Linked DNA regions of Homo sapiens: regions 2 and 3 are each linked to region 1. Evidence: fine-mapped expression QTL. A gene starts in region 1. Each other region holds a variant in brackets. All regions are shown on one strand. Distances are between the middles of the regions. Region 1 holds the start of NUP88 (nucleoporin 88). Region 2 overlaps RABEP1 (rabaptin, RAB GTPase binding effector protein 1). Region 3 overlaps SMTNL2 (smoothelin like 2).

Region 1 (9,789 bases):
TGTGTCAAATGCTATTTTAAATTCCTTACATATATTAACTTCTTCACTATTATTATCCTTATTTCAAAGGTGAAGAAACTGAGGCACGGGGAAATTAAGTGCTTTGGTCGGTGCCACACAAATTAAAGTAGTAAAGCCAAGTGAATGTTAGAGGTATGACTCAAGAGCTTGTGCTCTTGCCTCACCATAATAATAGCTGTTGATTATTGAAAGCTCTCTATATGCCAGACAATGCACTAAGTCTTCTACACACGTTATTTAAGCCTTACAACAAATTTATAGGGTATTCTCTCCATTTTATAGGTCATAAAAATGAAGCCTAAGGCTGGGGGCCATGCCTCATGTCTGTAATCCCAACACTTTGGGAGGCTGAAGTAGGAGGATGGTTTGAGTCCAGCTGTTTGAGACCAGCCTAGGCAACATAGTGAGACCCTGCCTCTACAAAAAAATTTAAAAAATTAGGCTAGGCATTTTGGCTCATGCCTGTAATCTCAAAACTTTAGGAGGCTGAGGTGGGGGGATCACTTGAGACCAGGGAGGAGTTCGAGACCAGCCTGGGCAACACAGTGAGACCCTGTCTCTACAAAAAAATAAAAAAATTAGCTCGGTATGGTGGTGCACACTTGCGGTCCCAGCTACTCGGGAGGCTGAGATGAGAGGATTGGTTGAGCCTAGGAGGATGAAGCCACAGTGAGCCATGATTACATCACTGCACTCCAGCCTGGGCAACAGAGCAAGAACCTATCTCAAAAAAAAAAAAAATACATAAATAAAATAATTTTTTGTCTTGTTTTTATCATCTTTAGCTAAAAAAAAAAAATTAATAAAAAAAAATTAGCCAGGGGTGGTGGCACACGCCTATGATCCCAGCTATTCAGAAGGCTGAGGTGGGAAGATCGCTTAAGCCCAGGAGGTCAAGGCTGCAGTGGGCCGTGATCACGCCACTGCATTCCAGCCTGGGCAGAGACCCTGTCTCAAAAAAAACAAAAACAAAAACCAAACAAGGCCTAATCAAATCAGGGCTACATGGAATAAATGACTTAACTATATAAGGTACAAAATTATGCTCTCTACACCATGCTATGGACACCTCCCTCAAGGAGTGGATGCTCACAGGCCCTGGGGAGTTAATAGAGAATGTGGCACTTAAAATGAATAGGGCAAGGGATCAGACCATGCACTATCACTGTATCCTGTAAAATGGCAGGTTTACTTTTTTTTATTTTATTTTTTAAAGTGACAGGGTCTCCCTCTGTCAGCCAGGCTGGAGTGAGGTGGTAAAATTATAGCTCACTGTAACCTTAAACTCTTGGGTTCAAGTGATCCTCCTGCCTAAGCCTTCTGGCTGAGGGAGGCTACAAGTATTTGCTACCACACCCAGATAATTTTTTTTTTTTTTTTTTTACTTCTGTAGAGACAGGATCTTGTTATGTTGCCCATGCTGGTCTTGAACTGGCCTCAAGCAATACTCCTGCCTCAGCCTCTCAAAATGCTGGGATTACAGGCATAAGCCACCACCCTCAGTGAACTATTAACCCATTAATAGAGAGGCAGGATGGTAGAAGAAACATGGGAACTGGATTCATACAACTGATTTTGCTTCCCATCTCCTCCACTTACTAGCTGTATGACCTGCACGAGAACACCAACCACCTTCTGTTCTAATACTACTATCTTACAGGGCAGTCACATGGAGAAAACAGCATCATTAAATGAGAAGTTCTTAGCACAAGGTCTAGCACCCTGGAGACCCTTATTATTGAGAAGCTAGACAGCCAAGATGTCAGAGTACAAAAGGAGTCTTTTGGACACTTGACTGATGGAGGTAGACAAAGGGGACTTATAAACTAATCCTGATTGGAGGAAAGGTCACAGTATTCCAGTAGCTAAATACAGGTAAGGAAGGACTACCACTAGGGGTTACCTTGGTTGATCAGCTCCTGTTGAATTTCCTCCAGCACAGCCATGTCTATCAGCTCCTCCAGCTGGAAGAGAAAGGAGCGGCATCAGAAGTTTGAAGTATTAATCACCAACCAAGCCCCACAGTGATTCATACTTGGAGGCTGGCTTGAAGAACCCAGATTTATTGGACAAAATCAGTCCAGTCCTCCTGCAGAATATGCTGACAGTGGGGTAATGCTGTCATGCTGACAAGCCATCAACAAATGATCCAACTATCCAGTGACAAAATAATGGTACCCAATTTTGGAGAGACGATATAGGGTAGCAGTTAGGTACATATTCTTCCAAGGCTACGTAACCACATGAAAAGTTCCTAATCTCTGCAAATCTCAGTTTTGGCCTCTGTAAAGTGGGAATAAAATCTATCTAAGAGGGTTACTGTGAGTACTAGTTGTGGTGATATAAGGCAAACATTGGTGTACTGCAGGACACACAAAAGCCACTGAATAATGCATCATTATTACACAGGGTGTTGATGGTTTCAAACAGTTGCCCACATTTTCTTACACAGTCCTTACAATGCTGAAAACATTATCTTCTCATTTTATAAATGTGAAAACTAAACCTCAAAGAGGCAAACTGAAGTTAACAGTCAATAGCCAAACCAGGATTTGAATTCTGGAACTCCTGACTTCGAATCCAGTGTTCTTCCTGATACACTATAAATGGTTTTCCCTTCCACACATGGCTGCCAACGTTGGCTGAGATTAGAATCGGAAAGTTTCTGGAGACCTTTTTAGAAAGAGATTCCTGACGTGGGCAGATCACTAGAGGTCAGGCGTTCAAGACCAGCCTGGCCAACATGGTGAAACCCCATCCCTGCTAAAACAGAAACAAAATTAGCCGGGCATGGTGGCACACATCTGTAATCCCAGCTACTTGGGAGGCTGAGACAGGAGAATCGTTTGAACCCAGGAGGTGGAGGTTGCAGTGAGCCGAGATCTTGCCACTGCACTCCAGCCTGGGCGACAGAGCAAGACAGAAAAAAAAAAAGAGCGAGAGAGAGGGAGAGAAAGAGATTCCTAGCCTATGCCTACTGAATCATAATTTCCAAGGGTGGAGGCAAGAAATGAAATTTCTTTCTTTTTAGTTTCATAAATGATGATGTTGCAGTGATGAGCAGGTCTACGGTCTGGTATTTCAGACCATTTCATCTAGACAAGTCTAACATTAAGTGTAGAAAAGCCTGGGTTAAAGGCTGTTGAATTCTAAATGGGGTTAGGGGAATGGTGGGTTTAGAGGACTCAAGTAAACAAATAAAAGAGGACACGAGCCGTTCTTGGTGGTGCAGTCCCCCTCCCTGAAAACACATAGCCCAGCCTGACCTGAGCCAAGTCTTCTGGACAATTCTCCACTGACTGCAAAGCATTCCACTCTTCTTCCATCACCTCTTGAACTAGAAAGCTGTTCTGAGAATTCCCTGGCCCACTGCTTCCAGCCTGGCGGTACCTGTTTAGGAGCCTGTCCCGGCTGTTTCTCATTCTCTCCAGGCATCTCTGGGAAAAAAGAGCAAGATTGGGGGGGAAAAAAAAAGCATTTCTATTTTTAAAAAACACTCTTACATTAGTTGAGAAAACATTAAAGAAAGTTTATAGACACAAAATTTCAATGATAATACTAACTAGTGTTACTTTTGCATATTCCTCTGTAGAGATACATAAAATTACAATGCTTTGTACACGTATTTACAAAGAACCATATTTTTTATTCTAGCTTGCCAGTTTCCTTAATGGTTGTGTGCATAATATCTCAGCATCCAATGTCCTATTACAGAACATTTATATTCCTTCCAAATTCTTGCTACTCTAGATATGGCTGGGTAACGGCCTTCCTGCACAGCAGCGTTTCTGAACTCAGGGAGGTTTTGTCCCCCAAGGAACATTTGGCAATGCTTGGAGACATTTCTGGTTGTCACAATTCTAGTTATAGGACTATTAGCATCTAGTGGGTGGAGGCCCGAGACGTGGCTTAAACAACCCTCCACAACATATAAATATCTCCCTCAAAATGTCCATTGTCAAGGCTGAGAAACTCTGCTGTATCTGCTATCTTTCTTGCGTCGGGTTACTTTCTTGGACATTACTTACTAATAACCACACTGTGTTCAGAAGAGGCCAGAACTGAGGTGGAGCCCTCTTCTAAGCCTCATTTTACTACTCTCTAGAATAGAAATCATCTCTATCTCACAAGACGAACGTAGACAAAGTGCCTCTCTCGGTGGCCACCTCCGCAGCAACAGTAGGTAGTGTTATTGCAGAGGTGCAAACGGTGATGTCCTGACCACAATTTAAATTCAAAACAAAATCGAATCCAAAAACAAGGCTTTCTAGGACTTGACCGACCCGGGCTAATCCCACACTCTACAGTCAGCAGGCCTGGGTTTGACCAGACCAGGCGCGCTGCGGCACCTGCTCCACGGAGCAGGGCTAAGGCGAAGGCAGGGAAGACGGCGGTCACCGGGACGATCTAGGGTAGACCACTGCACAAACCCCATACCCACCTGCCGGAAAGCCTCTTTCCAAGGCGGCGAGCCCACCAGTTTGTACAGGGAGCGGCGCGGAGACCTCAACGACTCCGCCATCTCCTCTTCGCGGGAGACAAAGCCACAAGACCCGTTCCCTGGAGGCGCGCACAGACCCCTGGGAGGTGTACTTTCCGGGTGCAGACCGCGAATGGATCGCAGCGTATTCTGGGAAGTGTTGTTTTATCGACCGGCCCCACGTGGAGACAGATTTAGGCATCCAAGCGAAATGCGTGAGGCCAGCCCGACCTGCACTGAGGGAGGTAAGTCTTGAGGGAAAGTTCTGGATGCCTGGGTTTACCCAGATGGAGGTGTCCAATAGGCAATTAGATACACAAGTCTCAGGCTCTCCCCAGGTGCTAGATTTCCAGCAGCACCACCATTATGTTGACTTCTCGTCCCGCCCCCTTGGGCTTCAGAAATAATGGTGATTGGCTTTCCCTTGGTGACGCCCCTGCTTGGTGGGCTGGCCTCGCCTTCGCCCCCCGACCTGGCACGAGCCTCTCGAGCTTCCGGGCCGTCTGCTCGGTGATTGGCCGAAACAGTGAGTGGACGGCCGCGGATTGGCTGTGCTCAGCGGCGGGCTGAGCAACTGGAGTGAGGGGAGCAGTTGGGCCAAGATGGCGGCCGCCGAGGGACCGGTGGGCGACGGCGAGCTGTGGCAGACCTGGCTTCCTAACCACGTCGTGTTCTTGCGGCTCCGGGAGGGACTGAAAAACCAGAGTCCAACCGAAGCTGAGAAACCAGCTTCTTCGTCGTTGCCTTCGTCGCCGCCGCCGCAGTTGCTGACGAGAAACGTGGTCTTTGGCCTCGGCGGAGAGCTTTTCCTGTGGGACGGAGAAGACAGCTCCTTCTTAGTCGTTCGCCTTCGGGGCCCCAGCGGCGGCGGCGAAGAGCCCGCCCTGTCCCAGTACCAGGTAATGCCAGGCCGATCTTGGAAGTGACCCTCACCGGGATCGGAACCAGTCTTTTTTGTTCCTTGCTCCTCTTGGCTGTTTTTCATCTTGTGGCAGGCGTTCCAGCGGATTGACTCCGACGCTGCCATACGCGGTCGCGGGGACTCAGGCTCTCTCGATGCTTACGGCCTGGAGGCCTGGGAGGAAGGAAAGGGTCATTGAATATTCAATAAAAATACTAGTGACGGATGAGTGCTCTGGAGAAAAACAAAGCGGGCTAAAGGGGTTGAGAACGAGTGGGCGGAGTTGCTATTTTTAGTTTCGTCGAGAGAAACCTGTTTCCTGATGTGACGCTTATAATAGGTTAGATCGTAACTTTCTCTTGCGTTGTGCACAGCAAGTCAGGTTGCAGGTTTCAAAGCACCACGCTTCATGCTTGACATGGAGGAGGAAGTCTCTGTTAATTCTTACCCCCGTAACGCCCGCTTTAGAAAATAAAGCCATACCCAAAATGGGGATTTTTGTTTTTGATTAGCCGACAGCATGTGAAAATGGGTGTGATCCAGAAAGTATTACACACTTGCCGTGGTCAAATATTGGTTTATGGAAATGTTTATTTGTAATACACAGATTCTCTTAAAGATGAAAAAGAGCTTGGTACTCATTCTAAGGTATGACATCTGTTGTGTGCCCGGTCCAATTCTTGTTACCGAGAAGTGATTTAATTTTAATAAGACGCTAGCAATGCTTCTGCAGTTTTGAAAATAGGGCAGGAGTCTACAGTCTACTTATTTACCCAATTTCAGTTAAAAAGAATTATGAAGGCCGGGCGCGGTGGCTCACGCCTGCAGTCCCAACACTGGGAGGCAGAGGCAGGTGGATCACCTGAAGTCAGGAATTCGAGACCAGCCTGGCCAACATGGTGAAACCCCGTCTCTACTAAAAATACAAAAATTAGCCAGGTGTAGTGGCGCGCCCTTGTAATCCCAGCTACTCAGGTGCCTGAGGCAGGAGAATCGCTTGAACCTGGGAGGAGGAGGTTGCAGTGAGCTGAGATCACGCCCCTGCACTACAGCCTGGGCAACAGAGCAAGACTGTGTCTCAAAAAATAATAATAATTACCAAATGTGCAGCACGCAGTATTCTAATAACATTCTATACTGCTGTGTAGCATTTGACATAATCATAACTTAATTATTTATAATTATTTTGTGTCTTTTTTTTTTTTTTGAGATGGAGTTTCGCTCTTGTTGCCCAGGCTGGAGTGCAATGGCGCCATCTCGGCTCACCGCAACCTCCACCTTCCAGTTTCAAGCGATTCTTCTGCCTCAGCCCCCCCCGCGAGTAGCTGGGATTACAGGTATCTGCCACCACGCCCGACTAATTTTTGTGTTTTTAGTAGAGACGGGGTTTCGCCATGTTGGCCAGGCTGGTCTTGAACTCCTGACCTCGTGATCTGCTGGCTTTGGCCTCCCAAAGTGTTGGGATTACAGGCGTGAGCCACTGCGCCCGGCTGTTTTTGTTTTGTTTTGTTTTGAGGCAGGATCTCGCTCTGTTGCCCAGGCTGGAGTGCAGTGGTGCAATCTCAGCTAACTGCAACCTCCACCTCATGGATTCAAGCGATTCTCCTGCCTCAGCCTCTTGAGTAGTTGGGATTACAGGCCCACTCCACCGTACCCGGCTACTTTTTGTATTTTTAGTGGAGACGGGGTTTCACCATGTTAACCAGGCTGATCTGGAACTCCTGGCCTCAGGTGATCCACCCGTCTTGGCCTCCCAAAGTGCTGGCATTTCAGCCGTGAGCCATGGCACTCTGCCTCTGTCTTCTTTTCTAGACTGTAAGCTCCAAGGCAGGGGCTGGGTCTGCCCTTGTCATTTTTTAAAAACGTATTTTATTTTTTATTTTTGAAATGGGGTCTTTCTCTGTTGCCCAGGCTGGAGTGCAGTGGTGTGATCACGGCTCATTGGAGCCTCTACTGTCAGGGGTCGAGTGATCCTCCCACCTCAGCGCCTGGAAGTAGCTGGGACTACAGGCATGTGCCACCACGCCTGGCTATTTACTTATTTTTGTATGTCCAGCATACAGAAATGCTGGAGTGCCCAGAATTTATAAGCTTTCAGTAAATATTGGTGACTATCTCAATAACCTTCACTCCTCCAAAATCTCAAAACCTTAGAGATGGGGAAGAAAGCAGCTTATCATGAGTTGTAACTTTGGATGTTAAAAGCAAGCATGAGTAAGCTGGGTGTGGTAGCTGTAGCCTATAATCAGCACTTTAGGAGGCCAAGGTGGAGGCAGGTGGATCTTGTGAGCACGGGAACAGGTGTTCAGACCAGCCTGGGCAACATGACGAAACCCCCATCTCTACAAAAAAAACCTTTTTAATTAGCTGGGAGTGATGGTGCACACCTGTAGTCCCAGCTCCTCTGGAAGCTGAGGTGGGGAGGACACTTGAACCCCCATAGTAAAGTCTGCAGTGGGCTGCCACTGCACTCCAGCCTGGGTGACAGCAAGACTCTGTCTCAAAAAAAAAAAAAAAAATTTGTGAGTTAATGGTACAAGTGTGAGTACTTATCCAGAGTTTTATTATCCTATAATTGTAGTAAACTAAGTATTACTGTGATTTCAAGTAACTGCCACCTATATTTAAATTAAAATTAACTATGTTGACTGGTTTGCTCTAATTTTCAGAGATTGCTTTGCATAAATCCACCCCTGTTTGAAATCTATCAAGTCTTGTTAAGCCCAACACAACATCATGTAGCACTTATAGGAATAAAAGGACTTATGGTATTAGAATTACCTAAAAGATGGGGGAAGAATTCTGAATTTGAAGGTGGAAAATCAACAGTGAATTGTAGGTAAGTTGTATACTATTTATCTGTATAATTTATTATATATACAGAAAATTGTTCAAGACTAGTGGTTCTTAAGCATGTTTAGTATACTACTCTTAAAACATTAAAACACTCCTCGTGGTCTGCAGACTGGCTTCTGTGTTATCAATGTTCATAGTATATGTGTAATTGATTGTACTTTATTCTGCCTGAAGTACCACGTTGCTGTCTCATTTGAGGCTAGGCCATTCTTTCGATTAGGTAGAAGTAAGATTTTGTAAAACCAGTTATCTGTCAGCCAGAAGTTTGCCAGAAGTGTAAGTATTTTATGTGTGTGTGTGTGTGTGTATGTGTGTATATATATATATACTTTTTTTTTTTTTTTTTTTTTTGAGATGGAGTCTTGCTCTGTCACCCAGGCTGGAGTGCAGTGGCACAATCTCGGCTCACTGCAAGCTCCGCCTCCTGGATTCAAGCGATTCTTCTGCCTCAGCCTCCCGAGTAACTGGGATTACAGGCAAGCGCTACCATGCCCAGCTAATTTTTGTATTTTTAGTAGAGACGGGGTTTCACCATGTTGACCAAGCTGGTCTTGAACTCCTGACCTCAAGTGATCCACCCACCTTAGCCTCCCAAAGTGCCGGGGTTATAGGTGTGAGCCACCGCACCTGGCCTATTTTTATATAATTTCTTTTTCAACAAATCCAGAAAAGTGAATCTGAAAGATCTACTGAAAAGAGTACAGATGCTTTTCAACTTACGATTGGGTTATGTCCCGATAAACCCAGTGTAAGTTGAAAATGGATTTATTGCTGACAACACAGCAGAGGATCCCCGATTTAGGATGGTTCAACGTAGGATTTTTCAACATTATGATGGGTAACCCCATCATAAGTCGTAAGGAGCTCCTCAGTTTATGTTGGCTTATGTACTGGTAAACCCATTGTAAAGTTGGGGATCATCTGTATAAGGTAGAAACTGCTTTTAGCTCCGCAACTTATAAGTTGAGTCCCCTTAAACTGTTTACCTTCTAAATCTGTTTCCTCATTTTAAAAATAGGATTGATAATATCTGCCCTTGTAATTTCCTTACAGGGTTAGTAAAAAGATCAAATGAGATACTATATCTGAAAACACTTGTACTGTATAAATATGTATCAATCCTAAGTCAAACCATCCTAAAATGTATATATACGTATGAAATATGCTATAATTTGGAGCCAGGCACGATGGCTCACACCTGTAATCCCAGCACTTTGGGAGGCCGAGGCAGGTGGATCACCTGAGCTCAGGAGCTTGAGACCACCCTGGGCAACATGGTGAAACCTCATTTCTACTAAAATACAAAAAATAAGTGGGGTGTGGTGGCACACGCCTGTAGTCCCAGCTACTCAGGAGGTTAAGGCACAAGTATTGATTAAATCCAGGAGGCGGAGGTTGCAGTGAGCAAAGATCACGCCACTGCACTCCAGCTTGGGCCACAGAGTGAGACTTCATCTCAAATAAATAAACAAATAAAATTTAAATAAATAATTTAAATTATTAAAATAAATAAATTATTTATTTATTTTGA
Region 2 (9,789 bases), 31 kb after region 1:
GTTCATCAATTACTAGATATCTCATAAGCACTCTGTTAGACATGGAGTATACACAGACATGAGACAAATAGCATACACTAAGAAATAGACATAATCTAGGTTTGGCAATACAGAGGACCACAGGGAAAACGCTTGGTGGGGAATGAGAAGGATAGCAAACTGTACCAGCTTGAAAAGTGAACAGTGAAACCAGGCACTGTGGCTTACGCCTATAATCCCAGCATTTTGGGAGATCGAGGTGGGTGGATCACACGGTCAGGAGTGCAAGACCAGCCTGGCCAAGATGGTGAAACCCCATCTCTGCTAAAAACTACAAAAATTAGCCAGGCATGGTGGCAGACACCTGCAATCCCAGCTACTCGGGAGGCTGAGGCAGGAGAATTGCTTGAACCCGGGCAGCACAGGTTGCAGTGAGCTGAGATCATGCCACTGCACTCCAGTCTGGGTGACAGAGTGAGACTCCATCTCAAAAAAAAAAAAAAAAAAAGAAAAGTGAACAAGGAAAATACATAATAAAATCCCATGTAGGCTGGGCATGGTGGCTTACACCTATAATCCCAGCACTTTGTCAGGTGAGGCAGGAGGATCACTTGAGGCCAGGAGTTTGAGACCAGCCTGGGCAACATAGTGAGACCCTTTACAAAAAAATTTAAAAATTAGCTAGGTGAGGCCAGGCGTGGTGGCTCACGCCTGTAATCCCAGCACTTTGGGAGGCTGAGGCAGGCGAATTACTAGGTCAGGAGTTCGAGACCAGCCTGGCCAACGTGGTGAAACCCCGTCTCTACTAAAATACAAAAAAAAAATTAGCTGGGTGTAGTGGCGGGCACCTGTAATCCCAGCTACTCAGGAGGCTGAGGCAGGAGAATCGTATGACCCTGGGAGGTGGAGGCTGCAGTGAGCCAAGATCATGTCACTGCACTCCAGCCTGGGCAACAGAGTGAGACTCCGTCTCAAACAAAAAAAAAAATTAGCCACTGTGGTAGCATGTACCTGTGGTCCCAGCTACTCAGGAGGCTGAGAAGGAAGGATTGTTTGAGCCCACGAGGTCAAGGCTGCAGTGAGTCGTGATCGCACTATTGCACTCCAGCCTCGGCAACAGAGTGAGACCCTATCTCAAAAAAACCCCAAAATCCCATTTATATCAATTTCAGAAACAGGTAAAATTAAACAGTCTTGCCTAGGAGTGAATACATAGATAGGAAAACTATAAAGCAAAGCAAAGACATGATATTATGAATGTCAGAGTAGCGGCTACTTCTCTGGGGAGTGAAAGGCTATGACCAGGGAAGGTCGCATGGGAACCCTGAGGCCCCCTGCAGTGTCCTGATTCTTGACCTGGATACTGGTTACATAGTGTATAGCCCAGTAGTGTGTAGATTTCACACTGATAATAAAAAGTTAAAGTTTACAACCTTCCAGATATCGTCTCCATGTCTTGTCCAAAAAGGTAAATGGGAGCTATGGAAGGGGAACTAGTGTTTTCAACTGCTGTTTAAAGACTGCTGGTTCTAAAGGGATGGCGAGAAAGAATAGGTTAAGGGGAACTGGACATTATATTGAAATGAGAGTATTTTAAATGGAAGAGACATGAGTTTGCAAGCTGAGGGGAAGTAGATAATAGGGAGATTTTGAAACGACACAGTTGATGGTACAATTTTCAGAAGGTGTGAGAGGAGGCGGCATCCACATTCGGGGGCAGATGTGTGTTGTAGGCATGCAGGTGGGATGGGCATGGGAGCCGCTAGGAGAGCATGTTGGCAGAATGACAGTTCCCATCTGAGGTCTCAGTTTCCAGTGTCTTCACTGAAGTGGGAAGGAAGACTGAGAGAGATACACGCTGTGCGTGCCAAGTGATTTCCTGTGACATTGACATTGGGCCTCATTGAGAGAGACTCGGTAGTTCTGTTCATTCAACAGTTTCTAAGCACTTAATTTGTTAGCACTGGGCTAGGCAAACAAAGATAGCTGGGGCTTATGTGCAAGTTGGAGAGATCTTCAGTGTAACGTGTAACTTTTGAGATTACAGTCAGCAGCACGCTACAGTTAGGGATTCCTGAGTGACTTAGTCACATGGGCTCTAGACTTTAGTGTGGAGCTGCATTAAAGGTTTCCAAGCCACCACTTTTGAGGTTATGGTACTGATAGGATGTCCCAAGCAACTTCAGCCCAGGCCTGAGAAGGCCGCGGACCTGTCATGTCTTTGCTCTTGGTTCCATTGCATTTGCTGCTTTGTAATTTAACTATGACTGTGTTTTTCCAGGCAGCCAGCTCCAATTCGAGGATTTTGGATTGTACCTGACATTCTGGGACCCACGATGATCTGCATCACCAGTACCTATGAATGCCTCATATGGCCGTTATTGTACGTCCCATTTTATATTCTCCACACAGCTCTTGTTAATTCTGCAATATCTAAGTTGGGAAAATGCACTCAGTAACCAACTTGAAGCTATACATGTGTGGTTTATACTTTGGCTTCTGACTTGAGGGTTGGAAGGATGGATATTTCTGTTCCTGCCATCATCTCTATAAGGTTTCATTGTAGGTATAGTTTCTGGCATCCCCTGCACCTAGCTGAGAGTCAGGAGCTTTTCTTCAGAGTGTGGAGAAAAAATACTAAAATTGAATACCAAATTCCATTATCGATATGAGTAATAATTATCAAGCTGTGACCATACGCCAAGCTCAGAAGTAAGCCACGTACCCGCACTGCCTCCTGGAATCATCAGGGCAGCCCTGTAAGGAAGGCACTGTCATTTCCATTTTATAAAAGTGGAAACGGGGATCGAGAGGTTAGTAAATGCTGAAGTCACAGGTAACAAATAGAGCTGGGATACAGATGCAGGTCTCATTGACTCAGAAGTCCATACTCATACTCTTTAATTTCTCCATCTCTGCCAGCCTGAGGGACACTGTAGACTATGTAAACTGGAATAAAGCTGAACTCAGGCTGGGTGCAGTGGTGGTTCATGCCTGTAATCCCAATGCTTTGGGAGGCCCAGAGTTCGAGATCAGCCTGGGCAAAACAGTGAGACCCCCATCTCTACAAAAAACAAAAAAATTAGCCAGGCATGGTGGTACACATCTGTAGTCCTAGCTGCTCAGGTGAGAGGATTGCTTAAGCCCAGGAGTTTTAGGCTGCAGTGAACCATGATCATGCCACTGCACTACAGCCTGGGTAACAGAGCAAGACCCTGTGTCTTTTAAAAAAAAAAACAAAAAAGCTGAACTCTTAGTCTTTGCTCCTTTAAGGAACTCAGATAATTAAGCTGTAATCACTATGTTCCTTTTCCAACAGCCCTGGAAGATCATTCTGAGTTACATAAATGTAGGAATATGAGTACCAAAAACAAAAGTCACTGGAGCTTCAAACACTAGACAACACCCCCACCCCTTGTCCGTTCAAAGCTTGCACCTCTGGATGCTGACATAAATTCCTAATACTGGCAGTAGTTTACTGTCCTTAGAGGATCTTCCATAGTCTTTGAAGCTTGATTAAGTTGTACTATCTGGATGTAAAAATAAATATAAATTTTGTGTTATTTACACTGAAGGCACTAAAAGCTAGCAAGACCAAACAAAAATAATAAAATCACTGGAGAAAAAATTACCTGTAAGTTACCTCAGCATACTTTTTAAACACCCACAGTACATTTAGTAAAATAAAACCTAGTCACACTAGCTTACTTCAGAATAAATATGAATCCCAAAGGGGAAAAATAAACATTAATTGTCTGGATATTTTTTTTTTTTTTTTTTGAGACGGAGTTTGCTGTGTTGCCCAAGCTGGAGGGCAGTGGCACGATCTCAGCTCACTGCAACCTCTGCCTCCCGGGTTCAAGTGATTCTCCTGCCTCAGCCTCCCTAGTAGCTGGGATTACAGGCGCACACCACATGCCCAGCTAATTTTTATATTTTTAGTAGAGATGAGGTTTTGCCATGTTGGCCAGGCTGGTCCTGAACTCCTGACCTCAGGTGATCCACCCACCTCGGCCTCCCAAAGTGCTGGGATTACAGGCATGAGCCACCGTGCCAGGCCAATTATCTGGATACTTTCAGATCATATTTCTGCCAACTCCCTGAAATACAAGTTGTCTATAAAGTTATGCTATTTCATGAACTTTCACTTTTTTTTTTTTTTTTTTTTGAGACAGAGTCTTGCTCTGTCACCCAGGCTGGAGTGCAGTGGTGTGATCTCAGCTCACTGCAACCTCCGCCTCCTGGGTTCAGGCGATTCTCATGCCTCAGCCACCCAAGTAGCTGGGATTACAGATGTGTGCCACCACACCCAGCTGATTTTTATATTTTTAGTAGAGACAGTTTTACCACGTTGGCCAGGCTTGTCTTGAACGCCTGACCTCAAGTGATCCACCTGCCTCGGCCTCCCAAAGTGCTGGGATTACAGGCGTGAGCCACCACGCCCAACCAAACATTCACGTTAGAATTGTTGCCTTCAGAGTAAGTCACTTGCCATGCTGCCGAAGTCTGTGAGATCTTTTAAGCTCTTTTTGAAGTTTGAGTATTTGCACTTGACTGAATAGTTTTTAGAAATGAAATTATATAGAACCAATATGGTATATACAGCAGTTTCTTGGCTTAATATTGGTTTTGATCAACTCTAAACCTAACAAATAAGTAATTTATGTTTGTGGCTCCGGCTTATAAACTGGCTTTCAAGTCCTTTGCCAAGAATCCATGCTAGGTGTTTGTGCTGCCTTGATCTTTTAGAAAAGAACTGGAAATGGCAGTCAGAAATGCTTTCACAAATCAGGGGCATTGGAATAATAAGGGTGTAGCTTCCCAAAGTGACCTTTTCAAGGTGGAAAACATGCATTCTTGCACTTTTACAAAAGTTACACTTTATTTTATATTCTGAAAGTTCTGGATTAATGTGGTTTCTGCTTTCCTGTAATACAGTAAATCACTCCATGGTAGAATTCAATTTACTTACTTATTTTGCAGAAGTACAGTCCATCCAGCGTCTCCTCCCCTGCTTTGTACTCGAGAAGATGTTGAAGTGGCAGAGTCTCCCCTCCGTGTTCTGGCTGAAACCCCAGATTCCTTTGAAAAGCATATTAGAAGCATTTTGCAACGTAGTGTTGCCAATCCAGCATTTTTGAAGTATGCAACCTTGGGCATAGCGGTTTTATGAATGGGTTCTCTTCTGTCTTCAGAATTACTGTGCATCCTTTCTGTCCTCATCTGTTTCATATACTTTTTACTGTGATAAATTTGGAAGAAACTGGATATATTTGATCAGCTAGTGAATGGGGAGCAGGAGGGAAGTGGCACCTGAGAATGATAAACAGGAAGTGTTTAAAAAGAAGTTAGGCTAGGCCGGGCGTGGTGGCTCACACCTGTAATCTCAGCACTTTGGGAGACCAAGACGGGTGAATCGCGAGGTCAGGAGATCGAGACCATCCTGGCTAACACAGCAAAACCCCATCTCTACTAAAAATACAAAAAAAAATTAGCTGGGTGTGGTGGCAGATGCCTGTAATCCCAGCTACTTGGGAGGCTGAGGCAGGAGAACCGCTTGAACCTGGGAGGCAGAGGTTGCAGTGAGCTGAGATCCCACCACTGCACTCCAGCCTGGGCGACAGTGAGACTCGTCTCAAGTTAGGCTGGGCACGGTGGCTTACAGCTGTAATCCCAGCACTTTGGGAGGCCCAGGCAGGCGGATCACCTAAGGTCAGGAGTTCAAAACCAGCCCGGCCAACATGGTGAAACCCTGTCTCTACTAAAAATGCAATAATTAGCCAGGCGTGGTGGTGGGCACCTGTAATCCCAGCTACTCGAGAGGCTGAGGCAGAAGAATTGCTCGAACCTGGGAGGTGGAGGTTGCAGTGAGCCGAGATAGCACCAATGCACTCCAGCCTGGGTGACAGAGCGAGACTGCATCTCAAATAAATAAATTAAAAATATAAAAAGTTTAAAAAGCACCTGTGACTTGAGTCTATTTATTTTCAGTTGTTTTACTCAGCTAAGGAAAATAAAGGTAGAAACTTTGTTTTTAAGAGCTTCTGAAAAGGACATAGCCCCTCCTCCTGAAGAATGCCTTCAGCTCCTCAGCAGAGCCACCCAGGTGTTCAGAGAGCAGTACATTCTCAAACAGGACTTGGCAAAGGAGGAGATTCAGCGGAGGTATGATGTCCTGTGTTCACAAACCATCGATCCCTGGCTGGTAGCTGATGCTGTATGGTAGCCTAGACCTGGCTTCTGAATAAACTCTATTTCTTTTTGTTTTTAAAGGGTCAAATTATTATGTGACCAAAAAAAGAAACAACTAGAAGATCTCAGTTATTGTCGAGAAGAGAGGTAAGTGTCAAAAATAAGAAGAATACAATAGGTCAGTAAGACTGGAACCATATTCTCACCCTAAGATGCTGAGCCACATTAGGTGGTTTCAGCATCAAGGGGTGGACCTCAAGAGTCTCTTGTGTCTTACATCATTAGGAAAAGTCTGCGGGAAATGGCTGAGCGTTTAGCTGACAAATATGAGGAAGCTAAAGAAAAACAAGAGGATATCATGAACAGGTCAGTGGGCTGTATAACATTTAGTTACCTAGTCAGGTACTAACAACGATATTTAAGAAAATGGGCATTGGCAGGTGCTTACATACCTACGGAACTGAACTGATCCCCCTGCCTCTCCTCTGAAGTATATGTTGGGGAAAACATGAGGCTCTCCCCTAACCCTTCCTATGGGGCCTACTTCAGAAACACCAGATTCATGAATTATGAGCTTGTGATTATGTTTCTCCTAATTAGTAGAGACCTTAAATTGAGATGTTTGCTTGCCTTTTCTAAAGGATGAAAAAACTACTTCACAGTTTTCACTCTGAGCTCCCAGTTCTCTCTGATAGTGAGCGAGACATGAAGAAAGAATTACAGCTGATACCTGATCAACTTCGACATTTGGGCAATGCCATCAAACAGGTAGGAATAGATCCAAACTAGCTAAATTTGGTAATTTTTCTTAAAGCACTTATTCTACAGAAAATTTTACAAAAATGTAAAAAGAACAGATTCAAATAGATACTGTGAAAATGTGTGGCAAACCACTGCCAAAATATCTATTATTTTAATACTTAAGGTTACTATGAAAAAGGATTATCAACAGCAAAAGATGGAGAAGGTGTTGAGTCTTCCAAAACCCACCATTATTCTCAGTGCCTACCAGCGAAAGTGCATTCAGTCCATCCTGAAAGAGGAGTAAGTAAATACTTCCAATCAGCTATTATCGTGAGATAGTTTTTCCTTTACAGTATGCCAGAATCAACCTGTCTTAATAGAAACCTGAATCTTGGTATTTGCATGTCAAGTAATTACTGGGATGAGAGCCACATGATACATAGGGACTTAAGAAATGACT[ATG/G]GTGGGAGGATTGAAAGGGATGACCTTCTAGTAACATGATTTTGTTGTGTGGCCAAAGGTATTTTACAGTAATTATGTTCAAAAATATTTCCAGTACTTGCACCGTTTGCCACCTTAAATGAATAGTGAACACTATTGCTATCCACCTGAAACCTTCAGCTGTTAATTTTAGCAAAGCAGTTCTTAGATGTTTCAACATTACCAGTTTAAATTCTTAAGAATCCATATAAATGGTTTATTATAATTCCAAAAGTGAGTGACTTTACAATTTTACAGGGGTGAACATATAAGGGAAATGGTGAAGCAAATCAATGATATCCGCAATCATGTAAACTTCTGACACCACCAGGAGCTGACTCACACCTGAACTGAACACCATTGAAGGCTTAAACCCATATTGTAAAACAGGTAGAATTATCTAATTTATAAAAAGGTGTTTTGATGACCTTTGGTGTGGTTCATCTTTTTAAATATGTTGTTTTATAATAATTGAGTAAATGCTTTTATTTAAAATTTGGAATGTGCTTTATAACTCAAGCCTACAGTTGTGTTCAGCAAGGACTCAGGATTATTTCACACTGCACACTGCCAGAACCTCCCTGAACCCTATTGAGTTTTCTCCATATTTGAGCAAGTTAGTTATTCTTGTGAGCTGTGTTTTAAAGTAGCAGCACCAGAAACATGACTCTGAAGAGGGATAGAACCCTAGGATTCAAAGGAGAAGACCACACAGTGTACTTGGCAGCAGCTTTTTTAATTTGAACACTTTCTTCTTGAGGACACACCTTCAGTACAGTTAACAAATGGTTACACCTGAAATCTGCTGAGAGCAGAGCTCAAGATCCACAATTGCAAAGGCCACTGCTGGCTCACTTCCTCACAAGCTGTATTACCTTTCAGAGCTGAGTGAGGCTGTGCTCTACGTCCCAATACTTGTTACTGAGTGGACATGAGGTGCAAGTTTAGCACCTTAAAGGGAGAAAAAAATAGGTTAGTATGCAGAATGTGATTTTGTCCTCACTTCACCTTAAGTCATCTTTTTACACTTGCCAATGTGAGTTCTGAAAGGTACTACTATATCTGCTTAGAAATGGCTGAGTGACTGTCAATTAAAAGCCACATGATAAGGTAGGTTACAGGTAAGAGGTAAATCAGGTTAGACATGCATGAGAACATGTAGGCACAGACTGAATATAAGCACAGGAACACTCGTGAAACCCAACTGAGCTTTTCTTTTGCCTAGAAGGGCTAAATCCTGCCTTCTACATCAGTTCCCATTTATGCTGAAAACCCAGTTGAAAGAATTGTTTCCTACCTGGACAGTGACACAGTAGTTTGTTTCATACCAGAAACACATTGCTAAACAAAACTTAAGAGTCTCAGTTTGGGTTTTTCTACAATAAAGTGAATTCCAACAGTTGGCATTTGCCACAGTAGAGACCACTAACCATTCCCTAATTGTGATGATTTTATTACCCAGCACCATCTTCTGGAGAAAAATATCTGTAAGGTGCTCAGTCTCAGCAGAACACTTCACTGCAAGCTCTAGTTCAGTCAGTTCAGAAAGGCTGTGAATTGCCCACCCTGATTTACAGCACTAATTTTAATAATCTGAAGACAAATTCGCTTGGGGCTTATCCAAGGGACTAGTCTTAAACCTACGTAATTTAAATTGATTGCATTTTATAATTAATAAAATCCCCTGTAACTCAATAGTTATATGTTTCCTTTATCTAAACCATGTAGCACTCTTTATAAAGGGACTTTAAACCAATTAAAATAATGTTTCATGTGCGGCAAGCCTTTAGTACTATTTCCATAATTGGTATTTATTTTTAAATTCATAACCATGAATGCAAGACTACAATAATAACCCAAGAGATGAGGTATGTAGTACTTATCATTTGTCCTATGGAAGACAGAAGTACAGAAGATCTTTAGGGTAAGTCCATAGTGACCTCATTTATAACAAAGACAATTCACTTTAAGTTGATGGTGGCGTTATGTGAACAAAACAATCTACCTAGTTCACTAACTCCCAGAAGGCTCTTTCAGGTACCCTGCTGTTATGCAACCAGTCTCAAAAATGATTTGAAAACCATCTTACTTTTGAACCTCCTGGATGATGAATCCATCCACTGGATATTCCTGGGACAGTACTCTCAGCAGGTATTGATGAACATGAATCAATTCTTTGTGCTTTCTGTAGCACTTCATAAAGTTATGGCAAAGACCTGTTTCACTGAGGCTTTCTTCACACAGGAAAGGAATCTAATGCTTGTAAAATGACAAGACAGATTTCCAATTCTAACTAACTGGCTTTCCATAAGCATTGTCACTTACTTACATTCCAGGTCTGAATTCAAAAGAAAAATACAAAGTATCTGTCAACCTAGTTACCATTTTTGTATT
Region 3 (9,789 bases), 830 kb after region 1:
CAAGGGGAGCTGTGTTCCCTGCAGGCTGGGGCATGGGGCCACCACCCCATGGCCCGGGGCATCCCTCTCCCTGCCACAGCCTAGCCTGGTCTAGGGCAGAGGGTGACCAAGGTGACCAGGGCATAAGCGGGCATCACTGGACTTAGACAAGGAAGAATCCTGCAAGACAGTGTCGCCTCACCCTGGGGTGGGTGTGGGGGTGACCTCGCCGCTGGAGTGGGTGCTGGAGTGACCTTGCCGCTGGGGTGGGTGCTGGGGTATCCACCCCGATACCCTGACCCTGTGTCCTCTGACAGTCTGATTGACGGTTGCCACGTCTGGGCTTCGGCAGCTGGGCCCCATCCTCATGAGCTGCCCGCTCCCTGCACCACCCATTCCCCTTGGCTCCACCACACCATCGTCTGGATCCAGTTGCACAACACGCTCGTCCAGAGCTGTTTCTGCAATTAGGATGACAGCTAACCCCAAGCAGCCAAGACAGAAAGGCTTTTAAAGTATACAAGGAGTTCTTGTGACCCCAGGGGGCTGAGTCCAAGCGCGTCATCCAAGGCAACATAACAGGGCTGATACCGATATTCCAAAAACTCAGGCTAAGGAGCTCAGAGCCAGTCTCGATTCTGCCCTCGGAGAGAGAGTTGCTGCCCCAGAGAGGGGCAGCTATCTCAGGTCAAAGCGAGACTTACAATACCAAGTGCAGGTTACAAGACCCTCTGGCTCTGATTCTTTCCCTGGCCAGGCTCAGGGGCCGGGGTGGTGGGCCAGGGCCGGGGCTGGGGCCGGGGCCAGGTGGTTGGTGGTTGGGCTGGGAAAGGAATGAGGAAGGCAGGTGAGGCCTGGGGTGAGGCTCCTTTAACCCAACAAGCCCATGAGGACCACTTTTTTTTTTTTTTTAGAGATGGCGTCTCACTCTGCCACCCAGGCTGGAGTACAGTGGTGCGATCTCAGCTCACTGCAACCTCTTTCTCTTGGGTTCTAACAATTCTCCTGCCTCAGCCTCCTGAGTAGCTGGGACTCCAGGCGCCTGCCACCATGCCTGGCTAATTTTTTGTATTTTAGTAGAGACAGGGTTTCGCCGTGTTGCCCAAGCTGGTCTCGAACTCCTGAGCTCAGGCAATCCACCCGCCTTGGCCTCCCAAAGTGCTAGGATTACAGGTGGGAGCCACCGTGCCCGGCCAAGGACCACTCTTAAATGTGGGCACTGAGGACTCAGACCAGAAACAAACAAGGTCGGTTGTAGACCGACGTCAGAGGCTGACAACACAAGGCACAAAGGCAGGGAGAGAATAACAAACGCGCCCTCCAGAAGACTCGGCTTTGGGGACGGCCTTACTTCTCTCTGAGCTTCAGAGAGCTTAGCATTGGGCAGCCCCGAACACCACTCATCTGTGCCCTGCTCCCTGCCCTGGGGGCCAGGATGAACCACAGCCCTGGCCCTCTGTCTTCAGATTGGGTTCAGTCACCATGAGGCCCTGGCGTGAGGCAGGAGGGGAATGAGGTTGGGACACTTATCCACAGCTCCCTCCCTGCCAGGTCGCAGCGAGCTGACTGCAACCATTTGCCCAAAGCGCAGCTCTTATCAGACAGTCCTCCGCACCCAGGCCACGGGCTGAGATCCGCCACACTGCTGTTATCCCGAGGCTGCTGCATGAGGCCTGACCCACGACCTCATTCCTGCCCACGCCTTTGTAAAGGGTCCCTTTATTAAACTCTCCTCGCCCAGTTCTTGACTGTGCCCCCGTCCGCCGCTGGAGCCCTGGCAGACAGACCTGACTTTGCCAACTCTCCTGAGGCCCTCGGCCAAAAACCAAATCCCGAACTGGCTTTCCAGGTGCCTCCTGACCCCAGAGCCACCCCCAAATCTTCACCCTAGAGGTGGGACCTAAGAAGCTAGGCAATTTCACAATAAATGCCAGAACACCATTTCGGGAAGGAAAATCTTATTGGAAGCAAAAATCTCCTTTTAAGTGGCCCAGGTCATATCCAGTTCCTTGCTAACTGGCAGCTGTGGCTCATGCAAGCAACGGCATCTCTCCATCAGTCCAGAGAGGACAGATTCAGAGCTTTGGGGGACCCTGTCCTGCTGCCCTTCATGCCTGGTCTGTGGCTGGTCTCCCAGAGTGCACCTCAGAAGCTGGGCACCTAGCAAAAAGGGCAGGTCCCCAGGAACGGAGTCCCCCTCCACCACTGAGTGCTGTGTGACTCTGGGAAAATCCCTCTCCAGGCCTCAGTCTTCCCATCTGCACAAGAGGTACACAGACCACATGGCCCCAGGGTCCTTCAGCTTTGCAGACAGCGGCCCGACATCCCACTCGCCCCCATGCCCCACCTGGGGAAGAAGTTGGGCTCAGGGACTGGGCTGGGGCTGGTAGCCAGCAGGAGCCACCATACTCACTCGGCCATGGTGAAAGCCAGCTCGAAGTTCTTCTGCCTCTGCGTGGGGCTCAGGGAGTTGTAGTCAAAGGCATCGGGGAAGAAGGAGTGTACCAGGGCGCAGAAGGCCATGCCGTCGCTCCAGCTGGAGGAGAAGTTCTGCAGGTCCACGTGCTGCAACAGGGTGAGTGGGGTCAGTGCGGGAGGGCAGCTGGGCACCCACTCGGAAGGCATAATTACCGTGGTTCCTACCCCTTAACCCCAGCCTCAGCGGGCTCCTGCCCAGGCGGGAGAACAAGGACAGGGGCGACGCTTGGTCAAGCTTTTAGCTGGGGCGTCCCAGCAGCCGGAGGGGAGCCGGGGCTCACCTGGTAGCCCAGCGTCTTGCTGCGGCACCACTCGAGCAGGATCTGCTTGATGCTGCTGGCGCTGGCCACGCCGAAGCTCTGCGACCGCTTCAGCCTGGCCCGGGCCTCGCCTTTCCCCCTGCGGAGAGACGGCAGGCCTGCTGCGGGGGCCCCTCCAGCTGCCATCTCCCAGTGCGGGTCTGGGGCAGGGGAGGCTGTCCTGGCACCACCAAGGAGGGTGCTCCCACCTGCTCTGCTCACCCAGGGGAGATGCTGGTGGCACACGTGGGCTCAGCTGTGCCCACGTCCACGGCACAGCCCATGTACCAGCGACACAGCCTCCTTTGATGGTATGTGGCAGGACCGTCCACACCCCTACAGCCCTCCAGGTCCCCTGTTTATTCCCCATCCAGGAAGCAGGGGTCACCTGGGAATCCTGAGACAGAAGACCTTGGCTCACATGGCCCTGGGCCCCTGCCTTCTGCTTTGGAACACCTTTCCCAGCTCCTTCCTCCCACTCCTCCTTCTGAGCTCCCCTCTTAATGGGGTGCCTCCTTCCCTGATGGCTCTTTCCTAGCCAGGAGGGATGAGTTCCTCTTCTGGGCCCCAAGGACAGTCCCTAATGGCCTAGGCCAGGTTGTTTGGGGCCAGTGGGGAGATGTCCGGGGTCGGTCCCCCTCACTAGAGTCGAGCAGGGACTGGCTGTCGTCTTCATTATCCCACAAGGCCTGGGCCACACCCTGCACACAGCAGGCATCAATACCACGCTTGGGCCACACTCTGCACACAGCAGGCATCAATACCACGCTTGGGCCACACCCTGCACACAGCAGGCATCAATACCACGCTTGGGCCACACCCTGCACACAGCAGACATCAATACCACGCTTGGGCCACACCCTGCACACAGCAGGCATCAATACCACGCGTGGGCCACACCCTGCACACAGCAGACATCAATACCACGCTTGGGCCACACCCTGCACACAGCAGGCATCAATACCACGCGTGGGCCACACCCTGCACACAGCAGACATCAATACCACGCTTGGGCCACACCCTGCACACAGCAGACATCAATACCACGCTTGGGCCACACTCTGCACACAGCAGGCATCAATACCATGCACTGACACGAGGACTGGCTGAATATGCAAAGGTGGGCTGGAGCCTGAGGAGCCGTCGCTCGAGACCTAGTAGCAGGCTGGAGGCCACTCGGCCCCGTGGCATCACCTTCGGTCCTTGGGCAAGACCAACCCCATGCTGGGGCTCCCAGCTCTGGCCAGGAATCCCAGTCCCCATCCAGTCCCCGGTCATGCCCAGAAACCAGAGGAGCCACAACCCCTGGGGAATGTGGGTGTGAGGGCAGCCTGGCGGCACCAGAGACAGGACAGGGGGCCTCGGGAATGGAGGAGGAGAGAGGGGCTCTCACCAAGCCTTCCTGGCTCCCTGCCTCACAGCCATCTCCCCCAACAACTGGGGTCCTCTGTCCCCCCAAGCTGCCCTGTGGCCCAGCCCTAACTTTGTGCCTTGCCCAAGAGATCTTGTCCTGGGCAACAGCGCCCTGGGGAACAGGACAGGGCTGAACCTTGCCCTGCTGCACCCACCCAAGCCCCGTCTGGGTCTGGGCACACCGTGGGGCCGGGCCTGTCTGTGAGTGGGCATCCGTACTTGCCGGCCGCCGTTTCCTGCTCCCACTTCTCAAACAATGCTTTCCGGGCCTGCGCCTCCGAGGTGCGGGGCAGCGTCTGCGACCTCACCAGCTCCCTGCGACGCTCCCCCTGCCGATGGACCTGAGTTATGGCTGGCGGCTGCGGGGACACGGGCGACTGGGGTGGTGTCACCAGCGGTGGGCTGAGGAAAGAATCGCCGAGTTGGGACCTGGGCCCAGCAGCCATCACTAGCTCACCAGGCCCCAAGGTCTCCATTGCACTGAGTGTGGACAAGGCAGCCTGCACCGTGATGGGCGCTCAGAGAAGAGGCCCCCTTGCTCCGGTCCCTAGCTGGTTTGACAGGTTTTCTGAATTGTGCTGGCTGGAGGGACTGGCCAATAGGCTCAACTCAGGAGACGCTGGGCCCGATCTGGACATAACCACCCCTTTGCAGGTGTCAATGCCTGGGGAGGACAGAGGGACCCCCTCCTCAGGCAGGAGGTGTGCTCAGAACCAGCCCCGGAGGGACCAGGCCTCCTGCCTCCACCACCATGCGATAAGACCCCCTTTGTTTTCCCCAGAACGGTTTGCCAGAAAGTCACAATTCTCCTTTTATTATTAAAGAAAAAAAAAAAAGCCAAGCCTGCTACCCTACCCCCATCCCCAATCACAGTCCCGCTGGCTGGCTGGGGGGAGGCCTGTGCCACAGGGAAGGACCTGCTCACCTGCCCCTGCTCGCAGCCCGTGGGCAGGAAGTTCCGGGCTCTGAGGGACCCCAGCTGGCTGGGATGGAAGAAGACAAAGCTCCTGTCCTCTCCCTCCTGCCGGCTGAGAGGCCTCCTCCAATATTTTTTTGTTTTTTATTCATTTATTTATTTATTTATTTATTTATTTTTTGTAGATAGAGTCTCACTCTGTTACCTAGGCTGGAGAGCAGTGGCACCATCTTGGCTCACTGCAAACTCCGCTTCCCGAGTTCAAGCGATTCTCCTGCCTCAGCGTCCCAAGTAGCTGGGATTACAGGCACCCACCACCATGCCCAGCTAATTTTTGTATTTTTAGTGGAGACAGCGTTTTGCCATGTTGGCCAGTCTGGTCTCGAACTCTTGACCTCAGGTGATCCACCCACCTCAACCTCCCAAAGTGCTGGGATTACAGGTGTGAGCCACCGCGCC[C/T]GGCCACTCCTCCAATCTTTTGACTGACTTGAAGGTCCCACAAAGAAACCAGGCTGTGACCATATTTCTCCAAATGAAACTCTCCACCGAGGCCCACTGCCTCACTCCCCCTGCTCAGACCTTCCCCCCATCCTGCCGCCCAGTGCTCCCGAGATCCAGCCCCGAGCCTTACCAGGAGGCACCAACCCCAGGGCCAACCCTGGGCGGCCTGCGTCCAAAGCAGAGAAGACACCTGGGGCGCAGCGACCCCACAGGAACACAGGCCCTGACTCACCTATTGCTGTGTTTGCTTGCTGTCACTGCCCCATAGCCAGAGCTTGGCACAGACCACGTGAAAGAGGAATTCTTCTCTGTGGAAGAGAGAGGGAGAGAAGTAACAAACCCTGGCCCCAGGGAGGGCCCGCCATAGCCTCCCTTCCTCTGACCCAGCCCTGCCTCATTTACCCGGCATCGCTGCATGGATGAGCTAACCTTCTGGGCTAAGCTGGCCCTGCCTCAGCAGACAGTGGAGGAGAAAGGAGGATGGGCACACACAGCAACAACATCAAAGAGGTCTTTTCAACTGTCCCCGCCCTGCTCTTGAGAGCACAGAGCCCAGGGCCCGTGCCATGTATCCAGTGAACACTGCTCCCAAACCCTCCCTATAGAGGCCCACACGGCTTCCCCCAGGACATACCACGGAGGACTGGCCACAGGCCCAAGTCAGGCCTGGGGCCTTGAGGGAGGGGACAGTGCCCAACGTGCAGGGCAAGAGGCCACCTTCCAACTGTAATAAAAGCCACGGTCGCCCCCACCAGGGGATGACGCTATTTCACAGCATCTCTGGGCAGTAGCCCGGGAGGATGGGCTAAGGGAAGGGGCTGACATGGCAGGCAGAGGCAGGGCTGGGCTTAGCCCCTCGTTTTCCATGTCACCCACCGACTCCCTCTCCCCAGCCCCGGCCTTCCCTCTCCCATCCCAAGGGGAGGTCTGCCCCAAGGCCACGCTCTCCAGCTCATACCGCTAGGACTGGGAGTCCAGGGCGTGATGACCTCGCTGGGGCTTGGGTTGAGGCCCCCCAGGGTGGCAGCAGACATGGGTGATAGAGCCGCAGCTGAGGTCTCCCCAGAGAACCTGTCAGAGACTCGGGTGATGGCCGTGACTGGCTGGTGGGGCAGCCGCAAGGAGAGGCTCACAGGACGAGGCCTGGGGGGATCTGGTGCTGAGAAGTTTTGGGCAATCTCAGGGGGTCCATCGCCTGGACCTGGAACATGTGACCAGCATGGGTGGGTGGTCAGCTGTGGCAGCCACAGGGGCCTGGGACCTCCCAGGAGGGCTCTAGCCTCCCTGGGCCCTCCTCCCACCTCCTCTAGGAAGGCCTCCCTGACTGCTCCAGCCTCTCTGACCTCCCCTACCAGGGATATCTTACTGCTCCAACCAGAATTGATTTTTCCCAACTTCCCCTCATGGCCAGCTTAATAAATACTAGTCGGCTCCTCAGCCTCTATTTGCTTTCCTCTAGAAACAGGAGAGCTCACTACCTCCTGAGATCTCCCAACTTCCCTCTGTGTTTCACAAGTTCTACTGAATGACGCTGCTCTCCTGGCAGCCTCTCTCCCTGCTGGGGTTCAGGATAGAGTCCCCCCGATGCCAGGCCAAGGGCCAGCCTGGCACAGATACCTGACCAAGGCCTTACTTAACCCCCAAACCTACCCAGCCACCCCTCCTCTGCCGTCAGCCCTACCTGCCCCCGGCTGGTGCCCATTTTCCATGATGCAGGAGTTTGAGGTCTTTCTCATCTCCGACTCACTGGCCTCATCGTGATCCAAACTCTACAGAGACACAAATGTCACCGAGACCCCATCAGCTAGGGCCAGCTGCCCACCCCCAAAAGCTGCCCACCCCCAAATCCCCTCCCGTTCTGGCAAAACACCAATCATGTTGAGAGAAAACAGCCCCCAGGAAGAAAGTGACGGGCCAAGTCACACAGCAAAAGCTGGGATGGCCCCACTCCAACTGCTGAGCCCCTGCGATCCTGGGAGGCAAACACCTCCACTGGGCTCCTCCCAGAGTCCCAAAAAGCTGAGGACAGAAGTCAAGATGGAGGGTTCCAATGACATTAGGCCCCCTCACCTTTTCCCCCAGGCTGGACCAGATGATGGGGTCAGGAGTGCCTCGCCCCCTGCCCCTCTCAGCTGGGCCAGGTCGGCATGGCTACCCGTGCAGGGGCAGCAGGAACCAGTGGCACCAGGTCCTTCTGGGCCAACGATGAGCTACGGAGCCCTGATCACGATGAGATCTTTGCATGGGAGGCGGGGACACAAGATTTACCCGGCTATGCAGAGTGCAAGCGCCTGATCAGCTCCGTGCGACTCATCCATCCCAGCTGGGCAGTAGTAGTGGGTGGGGCAGGTGGGGGCAGACAAGACAGCCAAGGCCAAGAGCCAGTGGGGAGCCTGGGATCCAGGCTGTGCTGCCACCCACCCATGTGACCTGGGCCACATCAGTTCCCCTCTGGGTCTGTTTCCCTGTTTGAGAAACGGGAGCAGGCTAGGCAAGTGCCACTCGGCATCTACCAAACATCCAGCCCTTTTTCCGGTGCTATCCTTATAGCAACACCTTCTAAACACCACTTATAGCAACTGTCCTCCCCGGTAGGTGCTGCCAGAGCCATTTCAGAGATGGGGCCCGAGGACTCCCAGAGGGCATGTGCCCTGCCCAAAGTTATACAGCAAAAAACAGCTGGCACGTGTGGCCAGGGGAGAAGTCCTCAACCTTGGTCCTGCCCTCCTCACAGCCAGGGCGTGTGAACGGCTGAGAGTGTCTGTGGGGCTGGTGGGGGCTCCACCACGAGCCCAGGACGAGCGGCTTGAGAGGTCGGCTGTGCCTCTCCCAGATGCCCCCTGGTCTACAAGGTTCCCAGGCAAATGATGTTGCATCCCTGGCCCCAGATGGCTCAGCTCCTCTTGCAACCAGTGCGGGAGGTGCCACCCTGCCATTGGGGAATCAGTCTGGGAGGGGAGCCAGGCTGGTGAACAGAGGGGGCCGTGTCAGGATAAGGATGCCTCACACAGGCTTCATCTGACCCAGTGGGGCAAGGAGGGCTTCTCAGAGGCAGGGGTGCCTGAGCCACATCCAGAGTGAGCCCGGTGGAGGAGCAAGGGAGGGCACTCCCAGCAGAGTGATTAGTGTCTGCTTTTGCAGAGAGACATCAAGGCACAGGTATCCTGATCATGCCCGTCCAGGACGCAGGCAGATGGAGAAGTGCCCTGCCGCCCAAGCTGCCTGCCCTGCCGCCCAAGCTGCTGGCCCTGGGTACTTGACGCCTTAGACAAGAAGGAGCCCAAGGTCCTCGGCTCTGTGTTTCAGGCACACCCTTCAGAAGATGCCAGAGAGTGGAGACCAGATGGCAAGACACTTCACTAGTCCTGGGCAGGAACCTGGGGAGGGGAGATGGGGCACTGGGAGGGCCACGGGCAAGAAGGACTCGGAGCTTTGGGGAAAAGGGATCTGGCTGGGAGACTGGGTGGACATGGAAGAGGAAGGGTGCCAAGCCTCTCCCAAGCCCAGACTTGGTGGGTCAGGGCAGGTTTAGGGGCTAAATGAGGGTTTCAGTTGGGACATGTTGAGGGCCTGGGGCACCTGGAGCATCAGGGAGCTGAGGAGGTAGCTGGATTTTTGAGTCTGGAGTTTAAGAGAAAAGAAGGACGAACATGGAAAAACAGGAGTCAGGGGCATGCACTGGGCTCCTGGAAGCCCAGCAGAGGAAGAGCAGCTTAGGGGCCCTGGGATGAGGCCCCCACATTTCAGGAAGCAACAGAGCAGTCTGCGGAGAATGAGGAGCAGCCAGAGACGTAGGAGGAGCCCCTGAAGAATGGTGAGAAAGCCAAGGCCAGGAAGGAAGGGAGTCAAGAAGCCAGGCACGGGGCCAGGCGCGGTGGCTCACGCCTGTCATCCTAGCACTTTGGGAGGCCGAGGCGGGTGGATCACTTGAGGTCACGAGTTCAAGACCAGCCTGGCCAACGTGGTGAAACCCCATCTCTACTAAAAATACAACAATTAGCCAGGCATGGTGGTGGGTGCCTGTAATCCCAGCTACTCAGGAGGCTGAGGCATGAGAATCGCTTAAACCCAGGAGATGGAGGTTGCAGTGAGCCAAGATTGCACCACTGCACTCCAGCCTGAGCAACAGAGCGAGACTCTGTCTCAAAAAAAAAAAAAAAAAAAAAAAAAAAAAAAAAAAAAAAAAAAAAAGCCAGGTGCGTC

What was found. PIP is the estimated chance that this variant, and not a neighbour inherited with it, causes the effect.
Region 2: its variant is the best candidate, but not a certain one, in a credible set for the expression of NUP88 in cerebral cortex (GTEx, PIP 0.68).
Region 3: its variant is the best candidate, but not a certain one, in a credible set for the expression of NUP88 in CD4 T cells (BLUEPRINT, PIP 0.82).

The regions. Positions count from the first base shown.
Region 1 is chr17:5,414,965-5,424,753 of GRCh38, reverse strand. NUP88 (nucleoporin 88) reads left to right here and starts at 5,092. Exons shown (of 17, transcript NM_002532.6): 1 at 5,092-5,400; 2 at 8,072-8,241. The coding sequence starts at 5,104. RPAIN (RPA interacting protein) reads right to left here and starts at 4,572. Exons shown (of 7, transcript NM_001033002.4): 1 at 4,463-4,572; 2 at 3,288-3,458; 3 at 1,925-1,985. The coding sequence starts at 4,543. RefSeq lists enhancers at 4,301-4,520, 4,531-4,650, 4,380-4,917, 4,918-5,455, 5,091-5,730.
Region 2 is chr17:5,384,134-5,393,922 of GRCh38, reverse strand. It overlaps RABEP1 (rabaptin, RAB GTPase binding effector protein 1), which reads right to left. Exons shown (of 18, transcript NM_004703.6): 18 at 7,583-9,789. NUP88 (nucleoporin 88) reads left to right here. Exons shown (of 17, transcript NM_002532.6): 10 at 2,261-2,362; 11 at 4,963-5,121; 12 at 6,019-6,144; 13 at 6,253-6,318; 14 at 6,457-6,537; 15 at 6,813-6,939; 16 at 7,097-7,215; 17 at 7,654-9,090. The coding sequence ends at 7,717. Among named protein-coding and RNA genes, the nearest start is that of NUP88, 31 kb to the left of the region's middle. The variant ATG/G (reference allele first, on the strand shown) is at 7,376.
Region 3 is chr17:4,589,927-4,599,715 of GRCh38, reverse strand. It overlaps SMTNL2 (smoothelin like 2), which reads right to left. Exons shown (of 8, transcript NM_001114974.2): 2 at 7,268-7,355; 3 at 6,545-6,787; 4 at 5,819-5,894; 5 at 4,389-4,571; 6 at 2,739-2,856; 7 at 2,393-2,544. Among named protein-coding and RNA genes, the nearest start is that of SMTNL2, 10 kb to the right of the region's middle. RefSeq lists enhancers at 1-145, 146-1,038, 6,269-6,840. The variant C/T (reference allele first, on the strand shown) is at 5,545.